Regions from separate parts of the Homo sapiens genome. Here region 2 is linked to region 1. The links come from fine-mapping of genetic effects on gene expression. A gene starts in region 1. The other region holds a variant in brackets. All regions are shown on one strand. Distances are between the middles of the regions.

What was found. PIP is the estimated chance that this variant, and not a neighbour inherited with it, causes the effect. A credible set is the group of variants that fine-mapping cannot tell apart.
Region 2: its variant is the best candidate, but not a certain one, in a credible set for the expression of MDN1 in whole blood (TOPMed, PIP 0.54).

Annotation. Positions count from the first base shown.
Region 1 is chr6:89,817,820-89,822,211 of GRCh38, reverse strand. MDN1 (midasin AAA ATPase 1) reads left to right here and starts at 2,418. Exons shown (of 102, transcript NM_014611.3): 1 at 2,418-2,706. The coding sequence starts at 2,605. RefSeq lists enhancers at 1,481-2,100, 2,101-2,720, 2,375-2,764, 3,341-3,960, 3,961-4,392.
Region 2 is chr6:89,782,648-89,787,039 of GRCh38, reverse strand. It overlaps MDN1 (midasin AAA ATPase 1), which reads left to right. Exons shown (of 102, transcript NM_014611.3): 9 at 1,914-2,028. Among named protein-coding and RNA genes, the nearest start is that of MDN1, 35 kb to the left of the region's middle. The variant T/C (reference allele first, on the strand shown) is at 2,057.

The DNA of each region.
Region 1 (4,392 bases):
GATTACAGGCTTGAGCCACTGTGCCCTGCCCAGTCTTAGATTTTTATTACCCCCAAATTTTGCCTCCTGGCTGTTTACATTGTCTTCTCTTCTAATCCCAAACTCAGGCAACCACTAACCTGTTCTATTAATTTAATCACCCTAGAGCTGTTCATCTTCCTGCTGCTGCCCAGATGAAAGTTCCGGGATTTCCCTTAACTTTAAACACTTAAAAGTAAAATAATCCCGTGGATTAGGATTACGATCGACAGGGTTATTTTACTTTTTCTTTCTGTGCTAAATCTCTTATTTCCTGGATCCCGTGTCGTCTTCTTTCTTGGTTTTATCCTCCTTTTTCAGGGCGCATCTCTTTCAACAGATTCCTGAGAATAGTTGCCAGGGTGCATTATCACTACATAACTACATTTTTTTTTTTGTCTTTTTCTTTTTTTTGAGACAGAGTTTCGCTCTTGTCGCCCAGGCTGGAGTGCACTGGCACGATGTCCGCTCACTGCAACCTCCGCCTCCCGGGCTCGAGCTATTCTCCTGCCTCAGCCTCCTGAGTAGGTGGGATTACAGGCGCCCACCACTATGCCCAGCTTTTTGTATTTTTAGTAGAGACAAGGTTTCACCATGTTGGCCAGACTGGTCTCAAACTCCCGACCTCGGGTGATCTGCCCGCCTTGGCCTCCCAAAGTGCTGGGATTACAGGCGTGAGCCACCACGCCTGGCCCCACTTAAAAAAAAAAAAAAAAGACGGAGTTTCGCTCTTGTTGCCTAGGCTGGAGTGCAATCCCACGATCTCGGCTCACCACAACCTCCGTCTCCTGAGTTCAAGCGATTCTCCTGCTTCAGCCTCCTGAGTAGCTGGGATTACAGGCATGCACCACCACACCTGGCTAATTTTTGTATTTTTAGTAGAGACAGGGTTTTACCATGTTGGTCAGGCTGGTCTCAAACTGCTGACCTCAGGTGATCTGCCCGCCTCGGCCTCCCAAAGTGCTGGGATTACAGGCGTGAGCCAAGGCACCCAGCCCTAATTTTTGTATTTTTAGTAGAGACAGGGTTTCACCATGTTGGCCAGACTGGTCTCCAACTCCTTATCTCGTGATCTGCCTGCCTTGCCTTGAGCCACTGCGCCCAGCCCACAAGTGCACTTTTAATGTTATGGACTCTACTATTTTTTATGACTTCCAGAATATGCTATAACTTACACCCCATAGTTTAATATTCCCAATTGAACATTTTCTTCCAATATCTGTATTAAGAAAACTGCAAGGGGTGTCTTTGTCACACTTAGTGAGGATTTCCGCAGGCTAGAGTCCTACAAGGGGAATTGCTGGGGCAGAATGTTAACTAGTTAGGTATGAGCAGAACAGGAGAGCGCTCCCCACCCCACACATACCAGGACTATTGGGTGACAATCAAACGATGGTCAGGCGGTTCTTAACTGTTTCTCTAACGTTCACCGGGGCCAGCGAAAGGCAGTCTCCTAATAGAAAACACCTGAAACTGATCAGTAGCTTCCCAGTAAGATCTCAGGAGTGGGGAGAAGCAATGCAAGTTCCCCAAAGTATGCCAACATATAAAACTTCAAGTCAACAGGTCAAGCTGCGCACTTGGTTTCTCAAGTCGCCTGCTTGGCAGTCTTCCAAGTTGTACTTTCCTCCTTTTCTTTCCGTCCCGTTCTAAAGCTTTTTGATAAACTTTTACTTCTATTCTGAAACTTGTCTAGGTCTATCCTGCCTTATGCCCTTCGTGGAATTATTTCTTCTGAGGAGGCAAGAACTAAGGTTACTGCTGACCCCTACCTATACAGGGGGTAACTGCCACCGCTAACAAGAAGGGGAGAATCAGCTTTTCTTTCTTTTTTTGAGACAGTAAAAGTCTGCTGTGTCGCGCGGCTGGAGTGCAGCTGCACGATCTCGGCTTACTGTAACCTCCGTCTCCCGGGTTCAAGCGATTCTCCTGCCTCAGCCTCCCGAGTAGCTGGGACTACAGGCGCGCGCCACCACGCCCGGCTAATTTTTGTATTTTTAGTAGAGAAGGGGGTTTCACCATGTTGCCCAGGCTGGTCTCGAACTGCTAACCTCAAGTGATCTGCCCTCCTCGGCCTCCCAAAATGCTGGGATAAAGACATGCGCCACCGCGCCCGGCCGAGAATCAGCTTTTCTCTCACATCTGATCTTTCCGTGTGTTAAGGCAGAAGCAAGGCACGGTGGGCTGAGACTCACACGCCCCCTCTTTCCTCCCCGGCCTAACGCACTCTTCTTTCTGTCCCACCACGTGCTGTGTTCGCGAGTCCCCATCACTCCTGCATCCAAACCGACTAGATTTTTGTTTCCATTTCCCTCCCGGAAAAGGCGGGACAGCGAAGACTGGCGTTTCCGCCGCTGAGGGGCTGAGGCCGGGAGGGCGCAGCGTAGCCGTCCCGAGCTGATGACGTCAAACGCCGTGTGCTCACCCACGTGTGGTGCCCCTCTCCCGGTGTAGGCGCTGGAGCTGAGGACGCCTTTCCTGCGGGCGTAGTTGCTGGCTGCTCGGGCACTGGGACCTCGGCGGCTTGGGGACGCTGGCCGCGAAGTAGGGAGCGCAGGTGGCCGCTCGGGGTGAGGGCCCTGGGTCATGGAGCACTTCTTGCTGGAGGTGGCAGCCGCGCCGCTGCGGTTAATCGCAGCCAAGAACGAGAAGAGCCGCAGTGAGTTGGGCAGGTTCTTGGCCAAGCAGGTAAGACGTGAAGGGAGAGGGAAAGCGCCGGAACGACTGGGTCGCCCCACTAGTAAGCTTCCTGCGCTCCCCCGCCGATACTCGCCGCTTTAAGTGGGGAGTGGTGCAGCCTCAGGTCAAGCTGGCCCCCTCCTGTGGGCTGGCGCAGGTCGTGGAGGTTTCCGAGCGTGTTTGAGGCGATTGGAAGGAGTCTTTTGTTTTTATCTGGGGGAGCCTTCCAGTACCCTTCCCATCGCCTCTCACCCCTATGCAAGCGCTTTGGCTGCTTGTGGCAGAGGTGGCCTTCCCAAAGGAATGTGGTTTGTTTTTCTGAAATTGAGGTTGCGTTTCTGCCGTTTTGACAAGTGTACGTATCACCTAAGTGTGCGTAGTGCAGCCACTCCTGTTAGTTTGGGGAACCATCGACAAATACTGATTGCATTCCTGCTGTGCGTAAGGAACGGTGTGGCGCTGTGAGAAAGTGGATAGATAAATTCGTTACGATCTCTGCCATGAGGGAAATTTGCATCTGTTTTTGGAGACAGTTCGTAAACACTTACAACAGCTGAAGTACAGAGCAAGACAGCTCATACTCACTGTAACTAACTATACAAATTATAAGGTTAATTAGAGTTTTCTGGGAAATAGGTCTTCGGGCTTTTAAGAACCTTCTCATTGACTCCTTCTATCTGAGTTGAAGACACTTTTTTTTTTTTTTTGAGACGGAGTCTCGCTGTGTCGCCAGGCTGGAGTGCAGTGGCGCGATCTCGGCTTACTGCACCCTCCGCCTCCCGGGTTCAGGCGATTCTCCTGCCTCACCCTCTCAGTAGCTGGGATTACAGGCGAGCGCCACCATGCCTAGCTACTTTTTGTATTTTTAGTAGAGACGGGGTTTCACCATGTTGGCCAGGATGGTCTCGATCTCTTGACCTCGTGATCCACCCGCCTCAGCCTCCCAAAGTGCTGGGATTACAGGCGTGAGCCACGGGACAGGTGAGTGTGGTCCCAGGTACTTGGGTCCCAGGTGTGGCTAATTAAAAAAAAAATTTTTTTTTTGTAGTTGTAAGGTCCCCCTTTGTTGCCCCGACTGGTCTGGAACCCCTGGGCTCAAGTGATCATCCCGCCTTGGCCTCCCAAAGTGCAGGGATTGTAGGAGTGAGCCACCGTGTCCGGCCTAAATTTTTTTTTTTTTTTTTTTTTTTTTTTGAGACGGAGGCACGCTCTGTCGTCCAGACTGGAGTGCAATGGCCCACCCTCTCAGCTCACTGCAACCTCCGCCTCTCGAGTTCAAGCGATTCTTCTGTCTCAACCTCCCGAGTAACTGGGATTACAGGCGTGCGCCACCATGCCTGGCTAATATTTTGTATTTTTAGTAGAGACAGGGTTTCACTGTGTGGGTCAGGCTGGTCTCAAACCCCTGATCTCAGGTGATCCACCCGCCTTGGCCTCCTAAAGTGCTGGGATTACAGGCATGAGCCACAGCGCCCTGCCCTGAAGTATTTTTTTTGATGTATCTCAAGCCCAATTGTTCTGGGGAGTGGGGCCAATTTTGCTCCCAGGGACAAATCTGGAGACCTTTATGGTTATCACAACTATTCATTATGGGGGTGCTACTAGCATCTAGTGCATCAAGGCCAGGGACGCTGCTAAGCATTCTGTTATGTATGGGACAACCCCTTACAACAGTTATCCGTCGTAAATGGCAGT
Region 2 (4,392 bases), 35 kb after region 1:
TGAACTTCTGTACTCAAGCAGTCTTCCCAGCACAGCCTCCCAAGTAGCTGAGACTACAGGCACATGCCACTGTGCCCAGCTGACCCTGTTACTTTTTTTTTTTTTTTTTTTTTTTGAGATGGAGTCTCATTCTGTCACCCAGGCTGGAGTGCAGTGGTGTGATCTTGGCTCACTGCAACCTCCACCTCCTGGGTTCAAGCGATTCTCCTACCTCAGCCTGCCAGGTAGCTGGGATTACAGGCACCTGCCACCACACGGGCTAATTTTTGTATTTTTAGTAGAGACGGGGTTTCACCATGTTGGCCAGGCTGGTCTTGATCTCCTGACCTCATGATCCTCCGCCTTGGCCTCCTGATGTGCTGGGATTACAGGCGTGAGCCACCGTGCCCGGCCCAATCCTGTTACTTTTGTTTTAAACATTTATTTATTTTTTAGAGACAGTGTTTTGCTTTGTACCCAGGCTGGAATGCAGTGGCTTGATCGTAGCTTACTGTAACCACAAACTCCTGGGCTCAAGTGATCCTCCTGCCTCAGCCTCTTGAGTAGCTAGGACTACAGGGGTACACCACCATGCCTGGCTAAAAACAAATTTTTTTTATTATTATTATTATTTTAGAGATGGAATCTTGCTGCATTGCCCAGGTTGGTCTTGAACTCCTGGACTCGAGCAGTCCTCCCACTGTGGCCTCCTAAGTGTTGGAATGACAGGCATGAGCCACTGTACCTGGCACTGTTAGTTTTGATAGACCTTGATTTTTTATTTTATTTAATTAATTTTTTTTGAGACCGAGTCTCACTCTGTCATCCAAGCTGGAGTGCAGTGGCATGATTTGGCTCACTGCAACCTCTGCCTCCCGGGTTCAAGCGATTCTCGTGCCTCAGTCTCCCAGGTATCTGGGACTACAGGCACGCACCACGCCTGTCTAATTTTTGTGTTTCTAATAGAGATGGGGTTTTGCCATGTTGCCCAGGCTGGTCTTGAACTTCTGGCCTCAAGCAATCCACCTGCCTCAGCCTCCCAAAGTGCTGGGAGGTGTGAGCCACCACACCTGTCTTATTTTATGTTTTTTTAGAGATGAGGCCTCAATTTGTTGCCCAGGCTGGTCTTGAACTCCTGGGCTCAAGCGATCTTCCTGCTTTGGCCTCCCAACGACCGACATGAGCCACTGAGCCTGGCTGACCTTGATTTTATTTATAGAGATAGTGAAGTTCTTCCCTGGTAGATTCAAACACTTCCCAGAAAGACCTGGGACATCGTGGAAAGATGTTAGACAAACTTGTGATCTGATAAACTTGAATTCAATTTTCAGTTCTGCCATTTTCAGTCACAGTTGAGTGTATAAGGGCCATTCTTTCCTTCTCTTCCATTTATGTCAGAAGAAAAGAATGGCATCTTCCTCTCGGGACAGTTGTGAGGACTAAGTGGCCTATGCATAAGCATGTACCTTCCCCAGAGTGTATGTTTAATGTATATTCCTTCTCTACTTTTTTCTCTTCTGGAAATTTTTAATGGTTTTCAAGTACTGTAGCTTCTGGTAACAAGCAGTGAACTTAATGTTAATGCTATGAGCCTTGGATTATGCTTTCTCTTTCCTGAAGTTATTTATGCCTTAAGGAAGAGGAACCTGTCATTGAAATAAAAACATTTACCTTGTAGAATTATTTGCAGTGATTTGAAAATATTTGGTTAAAGCACTATCACTACTACTTAGGAGAAGAGCCAAACATGGGTTAACTGTCAGCCTTTCATTTGTCATCTGCCCTGTAAGCCCAACAGTGTAGTATCTGGAAACAGAAGGGATTATGAATATTTTTCCTATGTGAGACAGTGTACAGCAAGTAATATCCAGAGGCACAATTCAGGATTAAAATTTGGAATTTTGTGTGACTGTGTTTTTTATTTTGAAACGTAGACTCTTGAGCTGTGGAGGAAATTGGTATCGACCGCTAAACAGTCATGCTACTTTGCTAGACAAATATTGGACCAAAATTCACCTGGATAACCTGGATAAGAGAGAACTGAATGAGGTACGTGGGTCTTGGAAAGTATCAATGC[T/C]GGCCAGGTGCAGTGGCTCCCGCGTGAAATAGGAAATAGTATAATAAACCACCAGAACCCTCATCAACCTAAATTTTGCAGTCTGTGTGCTAGTATTTTACTGTATTTGCTTCATCTGTTATTTTTTCTGGGCTAATATATTTGAAAGCAAACTCCCAGCATACATCTCTTAAAATTTAATGGCATTTTCATATATAACCACAATAACATTATTATACACAATAAAATGAACAGTAATTCCTCAGTATCATTGAATTCTTAGATTATATTCAAATTTTCCCAGTTGTCTACAGAGGATCATTTTACTAAGTTGATTTGAAGTAATGTCTTTCACACTTAATGGACATTTTGATCTAGGCATTAATGAGAATTGAGGTAAATCACTTTATAGGTTTTCTACATTGATTCAGTTTCTAGTATTGTGGTTATCCTAGATCAGTAAGAAGTATATTACACTTGACTCCGTTCATGCCCCACTTCCCTTTTATGTCTCACTTGGAAGATTTCCCTTCCCCAGTGCTTTATCTAGGAGAGTGGCAGACAAAGCATTGTCAGTGGTCATTCAGACATGGAAGAGATGCTTTTCCCTTTATTGATGTAGGTATATAGGTAAATATGTGACACCAAACAAACTTCAATCTTTTATTTTTATTTTATTTTATTTTTTTTTAAACAGTTTCGCTCTTGTTGCCCAGGCTGGAGTGCAATGGCGTGATCTTGGCTCACTGCAATCTCTGCCTCCTGGTTCAAGCAATTCTCATGCCTTAGCCTCCCAAGTACCTGGGATTACAGGTGCCCACCACCACTTTTGGCTATTTTTTTTGTATTTTTAGTAGAGATGGGGTTTCACCATGTTGACCAGGCTGGTCTCAAAACACCTGACCTCAGGTGACCTGCCTGCCTTGGCCTCCTAAAGTGTTGGCATTATAGGTGTGAGCCACTGTGCCTGGCCACAAACTTCAAATATTTTTTCCTACATTTTCTTTTCTTTTTTTTTTTTTTGAGATGGAGTCTTTTTATGTCGCCCAGAACAGTACTCTGTGGCACGATCTTGGCTCGCTGCAACCTCCGCCTCCCATATTCAAGCGATTCTCCTGCCTCAGCCTCCCGAGTAGCTGGTGCATGCCACTATTGGGGTAACCCACCCCCAATATTACAACATAGGTTCTTTCTATTTTCCATAAGTGTTGGCTGGCTGAGAAATAAAGAGAAAGAGTACAAAGAGAGGAATTTTACAGCTGGGCTGTCTGGGGTGGCATCACATATTGGTAGGACCGTGATGCCCACCTGAGCTTCAAACCAGCAAGTTTTTTAAGGGTTTCAAAAGGGGAGGGGGTGTAAGAACAGGGAGTGGGTACAAAGATCACATGCTTCAAAGGGCAAAAAGCAGAACTACTAATAAGGGTTTATCAAAGATCACAAGGCAAAAGGCATAAAGCAGAACTACTGATAAGGGTCCAACAAAGATCACAAGGCAAAGGGCAAAAGCAGAACTACTGATAAGGCTCTATGTTCAGCGGTGCACGTATTGTCTTGATAAACATCTTAAACAACAGACCGGTCTGACCACAAATTTACCAGGGCGGAGTTTTTTCCCCACCCTAGTAAGCCTGAGGGTACTGCAGGAGACCAGGGTGTATCTCGGTCCTTATCTTAACCGCATAAGACAGGCATTCCCAGAGCGGCCATTTATAGACCTCCCCCCCGGGAATGCATTCCTTTCCCGGGGTATTAATATTAATATTCCTTGCTAGGAAAAGAATTTGGCAATATCTTCCCTACTTGCACATCTGTTGATAGGCTCTCTCTGCAAGAAGAAAAATATGGCTCTTTTTGCCTGACCCTGCAGGCAGTCAGACCTTATGGTTGTCTGTCCTTGTTCCCTAAAAATCGCTGTTATTCTGTTCTTTTTCAAGGTGCACTGATTTCATATTGTTCAAACACACATGTTTTATGATCAATTTGTACAGTTAACACAGTTGTCACAGTGGTCCTGAGGTGACGTACATCCTCAGCTTATGAAGATAACAGGATTAAGAGATTAAAGACAGGCATAAGAAATTATAAAAGTATTATTTGGGAACTGATACATGTCCATGAAATCTTCGCAATTTATTTTCCTCTGCCGTGGCTCCAGCTGGTCCCTCCATTTGGGGTCCCTGACTTCCCGCAACATGCCACCATGCCCAGCTAATTTTTTAATTTTTAGTAGAGACAGGGTTTCACCATGTTGGCCAGGTTGGTCTCGATCTCTTGACCTTGTGATCCACTCACCTCAGCCTGCCAAAGTGCTGGGATCACAGGCGTGAGCCACCACGCCCAGCTTAACTGATTTT